Regions from separate parts of the Homo sapiens genome. Here region 1 is linked to region 2. Evidence: fine-mapped expression QTL. Tissue or cell type: whole blood. Region 2 holds a variant in brackets; the other region holds the start of a gene. All regions are shown on one strand. Distances are between the middles of the regions.

Region 1 (2,645 bases), 62 kb after region 2:
TGATCTGGGGAGCCAAGACAGGAAATTCTGGTAGGCTTCTGCCTCTCCCCCCATGGACAGCCACTGGTGCAGCTGACAGAGGGCAGGGTCTATTCCGAGCTCCCTTGATGCACTGCAGCTGGAGGCAACGGCTCCCTTCCAGGCTGTGGGAGTGATCCCGGAGTTCGGCACCACAGCCCGTTAAACAAGGGCATTTCATGGGAAACGGAGAGGGAGCAGATGAGAGACCTTGAAACCTTCCAGCAACCTTACCCCCACTTCCAAACTCCCGCGACTACCCCAAGACCATTTCGGCCAAATCTCAGTAACTGGCACCATCTTGTACTTTGACCTCACCAGGCAAGGCATCCTCTGGGGAGAGGGGTTAAAAAAAAAAAAAAAAAAAGCCAGAACTCCACGGCTCAGCGCCACGCTGTTCCACCTCCCCCAGGCTGCCAGTTCCCCACCTAGAGGGAAAAGGCTGTTCCAGCGATCTCAGTAAACACTGTCGGTTGGCAACACCTGGCCGCGGAGAGCCTCGATCTCTCCCGACCCCAGACACCCGGGAGCTGCCCGGTCCCAAACCCGGGCCAGCCACGGGGACCAAACTGCAGTGTCACACCGGGGTCGGGGGGAGGCGCCTGTGAGAGACGAACGGAATAAAGGGAAAGAAGGGGGACAAACAAATGAGTCACTTAATACAAGGGCTGCACATGCCGCTGACGCTGCCGGTGATGCAGCCGCGGACGGAGGGAGGCCGGCGGCCGGGAGGGGCAGGCGGAGAAAGGGAAGGAGAGGGCGTGAGGCGCTCGCCCTTTGTGGGGCCGTCCGCGCGGCCCCACAGCCTACGCCCCCCTTTCCCGCCCTCTCCCCGACCCTGCGGGCTGAAGCTGCTCGGGGCTGCCGCGGAGCCCCAGCCCCGAGAGTCAACTCTCTCGGTCTCCAGAAGCCATCAATACAAAACTTCGACACTGTATTTAGTTCACGAGCAGACCGGCTTGGGAGGCGCCGCAGCCGCACCCGCCTGGCGGAGCAGGAGCCGCAGCCTCAACCTGCCGCCCGCCCCGCCCCTCGGCGGCCCACCTGTGACAGGTGTGCAGGTGCCCCACACGCCCCCGGCCGCTCCTCGCCCCCGGCCCCCCGCGGCTCCGGGCCCGAGCTCCCCAGCCTGCCGCCCCTCCGGGAGTCCCCCGCCCCTCCGCAGGCCCCGGAGCGCCCCCCGCCCGCCCCTGGGCGGCCGCGCCCGCACTCACATAGCGCCTCAACTTCTTCTCGGGAGGCGATTTCCTCAGCCAGCCGGTGCACACCACGTCGCCGCCGCCGCTCATGCTGCCGGCCTGGAGCCCCCCGCCGGGTCGCGCGGACGAGGGCGCGGGCTCGGGCAGCTGGGGCAGCGGCCGGCGGTGCGCAGCTCGCGGGAGGCCAGGGGCGGGGCGGGCGGCCCGGCGGGGACTAGGCGGCGCGGCGCGGCGCGAGCCCGGCAGCCTCGCGCGCGCCCGCTCCCCCGCCCCGAGCGCGCGCAATCCGCACTCTCCGCCCGGCCGCCGGGGGAGCAGCTGCAGCAGGAAGGCCGGCTCGCTCGCCACGCCCGCTCCCGCCGCGCCCCCGAGGCCGCCGCGCACGCGGACGCGGGGCTAGGGACCCGCGAGGATACAGAAAGCCACCGCCGCCGGCGCGCCCCGGAGTCTCGCTTTCTCCTGAGGCCCCAAGCCGCGGGCGCGGAGGCCAGGGAGGCGACCGCGCCCCTGGCGCTGGCGGGTGTGAGGGGAAGGGACTGCGCGCCCTCGGTCGTCGATCGATTTTTCACCGAGCGTCGACGGGGAAGGGATACTAGGGCTGCTCACATTTCCGATACATTCTGCGGGTCAGGTTCCGGCTGAAAGGAGGGACCCCTTCCCAGCAAGAAGCTCCTTAACTCTGGCGTCCCTCGGCGGGAGGAGGAGACGGACCTACTACGCGCCGGAGCCTTTGCTTTTGTAGCTTACAGGATTGTCTTCAGTATTGTTCCTATTTTATGGACAGCCTAAGGGCAAGGGCTTGTACAAAGCCGAGCCAATTTTCCAATTCAGGTGTGTGGGGGAGGAGGGGTCCCGGTCATCTGCTATTCAAAATGAGGGCATTGCCTTAATGGGATCGACCTGGGAGCCTCTCATTGCCTGGAAACCAAGTCCAGCTGACTCCCTCCTACACTGCCTCTGGGAAAACACAGTTTAGTATAGAAAATTCGCATGATTTGTAGAATGGAAGAAGCAAAACTAGTCAATGTATTTCATAACGAATTGGAAGGCAAGGTCAAGTGCAGAAGAACAAGAAATTGGGGTCCAAATTCCCCAACGTTCCCGCTCATTGACACAGGCTATGAGACCTCTGTTTGTAAATATAATGGTATCCCAGATGTACGTGGAAGCACACAACCCCAGCACTTCAGCGGGAGGGGGGAGAAAAAAATCTTTTGTACGAGCTCTTTTCTCATCACAAAGTGTCTCTCTAAGCAGCATTAAAAGGCAGGTCCTCCCTAACTTCTCTGATAAGTGGATAGTAACCTGTTTATTCAATGGGGAACCGTGCTGTGTGGACAGATGAATTGGAGAAGCAGCATCTTGCAGTGCCCCACACAACCTCAGACTAAAGCTGTTTTGTTTATTTCTGTCTCTGTGCAGCTGAGT
Region 2 (2,847 bases):
AGAATCACCGGAAAGCTTGGTAAAACACAGACTGAAGGCTCCCAGCCTAGAATTTGTGATTCAGTAGCTCTGGCTTGGGGGCCTGAGAATTTGCATTTCTCAGGGGATCTTACGTGATGTTGGTGCTGTTGGTCCAGGGATGGCACTTTGAGAACTACTGAAATAAGGAAAACTTGCTGTCTTCCTATAACCTGTACCTTGGGCCCAGCAGGTGCTTATTATTGAAAGAATGATGGCTACCCTCTAATAAAGGAACACTTTTGGAAGTGTCTACTGTGTTCCAGAGACCATGATTACCTCCTCATAATCATCAGGTGGCAGGCTGTACGTTTTGAAAGAGATTCACAGAAAGGTTTGCTCAAGGCACTCAAGTCTTATTGCTTACTTCTCTGTATTTTAAAGTATTAATTCATAAATTGTTTAGATCTAGGCAAGTTTGTGAAAGAATATGTGATACTAGTACAGACCATATGTACTGTACTGTATCATATCATATGTATTGTATCATATATGACATATATATTATATATATATACATACAGAATTGCTGAAAACTAAAATGTTCAAGAGTTAAAAAGGCTTTTGACACTGCAATGGTGGCATGAACGACAACAGGACTGGTCATCTGGAGTGGGGGCTAGGCTTTCTCTAACACCACAAAGGAAATCATCTATGCCAAAGACCTGGTCTGGACAGCAATACAGCTTTCAAGCATTAATGGGAAAGGCAAGAATCAAGGACAAACACACAGGGGACTTTTCTGAAGGTCAAAAAAGCAACAATAAATACCAAACCCAGAAAAGCTTTTAAATCTGACCTTTTCCTGTGCTGAAGCCATTCGCCTTCCAGCATCTTCAATCTAATAGACTGAAGTGGGCTGAAATGGCTCTTAGGAGAGAACTGGGGCTAGTCTTTTCCTTAATGCTGCCTCTTCACCACTACTCAAGCAGCAGCAGCATTACTGGTAATTACATCATTATACCATAATGGAACACATGCGGTGCAAGTGAAACAGCCTGGCGGCTCCCCAGTTGAGGAGAGAAGAAAAGGACTCCACTTTCACTGTTCAATTTCTATTAACTCTCTAGGTTCTGGCTTATTTTCAAAGGCAAACCACCTTTATGACATTTCACAATCTTAAAACAGAGACCACAGACGTGGAGCTTACTTAAAGATCAGGAGTGAAGTTAATGCATTAGTGTA[A/G]TAGAGATCCTCCACGGGAATAGGGATTAGGAGATGTGGGTCCAGTTCTGGCTTTGCTAAAAGCACTTTATGTGACTTGAGGGAAACCATATTTACATCTTTTAGGTTTCAGTTTCCTCATCTATAAACAACAGCAAAGTTTCTGGGCAGGGGATCCCAAAACGTCCCTGTGGGCAATTTGAGATTGGCACGAATGATCACAAGAGCTCTCCCACCCAACTGTAACCTTCTGTTATCAAAAAAGATTCCATGAACAGGAGAGACAGGAGTGAAATAGTATTTGGAAGGCCAACTCTATTTGATCTTCACCAGTTAACCAGATGAGAATTCTTGCCTCTACTCTGACCCATGTATCAGTGTCAGGTCATCTTTATCAACATCCACAGCAACATTTCAAGAGACCAAGCTCAGGCGGGGCATGATGGCGCATGCCTGTAATCCCAGTGCTTTAAGAGGCTGAGACAGTAACATCACTTGAGCCCAGGAGTCCGAGGCTATAGTGAGCTATGATTGCGCCACCGCTCTTCAGCCTGGGAAACAGAGAGAGACCCTGTCTCACTTAAAAAAAAAAAAAAAAAAAAAAAAGACCAAGCTCAGAACTCATTAAATGATCACAGGTCTTCTCAGAGAGAGAAAGTACACAGAAGTACCAAGTATACTGAGATTAAAATGAGGCAACTGAGGTTCTTGATGTCACAAACTCCTTATAGGACCCTGGCTGGGTCAGTCACTTAACCTTAGCCAACTCATCTTTAAGACACAGTGGCTGGGTGTGGTGGCTCGTGGCTCATGCCTGTAATCCCAGCCCTTTGGAAGGCCGAGGCAGGTGGATCACTTGAGGTCAGGAGTTCAAGACCAGACTGGCCAACATGGTGAAAGCCCGTCTCTAATAAAAATACAAAAATTAGCTGGGTGTGGTGGTGTGTGCCTGTAATCCCAGCTACTCAGGAGGCTGAAGCAGGAGAATCACTGGAACCTGGGAAGTGGTGGTTGCAGTAAGCCAAGATCATGTCACTGCACTCTAGCCTGGGTGAAAGAGCAAGACTCCATCTCAAAAAAAAAGAAAAAAAAAAAAAAGACACAGTGGTGGAAGGGGTGATGTTTAGAAATTAGACCCCTTCAGCTCAAGCAGTTTATGATTTTGTTATCTCTGTACAAGTTTCAAATGCTACTACTGGATATTGGGGCACTTGAGGGTGAGAGGTTAGTACTAACAACATGGTAACAATGCCAAATCCTGCAAGACAGAAATGTTTATGTTTTCTTATAGTATTCTTAAGGTTTTCTCACATGCAAGGAAAAAAATATTACCTATAGCAGACCTCAAGAATCAAAACATGCAAAACTACATATTAATTGTTTCATATCTCAGAATCTTCCCTTTTTAGCATCCCAAAAGAAAGTCAAATTATGTTCTTTCTGGTTGTCTTCTGGTCCACCTATAGTAGGTATAAGACTTTGGTTTTGAGCAATTAAGTTAGCCTAGATACCATGAATGACACTCCCAAAGAAAACAACTTAAAAGCTAAATAAAATATTCTTAAATAGTAATTTTGAAAATGAGTCATGCTGTCAAGAAGTAAGGAATCTGTAGAGAACAAAAGTTAAATGAAAGCAGGTGGAAGCAACCTGAATATTCACTGA

The links. PIP is the estimated chance that this variant, and not a neighbour inherited with it, causes the effect.
Region 1: it holds the start of GAB2, and the variant in region 2 is fine-mapped to the expression of GAB2 in whole blood (TOPMed, PIP 0.95).

What each region holds. Positions count from the first base shown.
Region 1 is chr11:78,416,414-78,419,058 of GRCh38, forward strand. GAB2 (GRB2 associated binding protein 2) reads right to left here and starts at 1,407. Exons shown (of 10, transcript NM_080491.3): 1 at 1,233-1,407. The coding sequence starts at 1,307. RefSeq lists silencers at 10-304, 767-896, 967-1,066, 1,177-1,796 and an enhancer at 393-1,147.
Region 2 is chr11:78,353,917-78,356,763 of GRCh38, forward strand. All of the region lies in intron 1 of GAB2 (GRB2 associated binding protein 2), which reads right to left. Among named protein-coding and RNA genes, the nearest start is that of GAB2, 62 kb to the right of the region's middle. RefSeq lists an enhancer at 1,238-1,387. The variant A/G (reference allele first, on the strand shown) is at 1,204.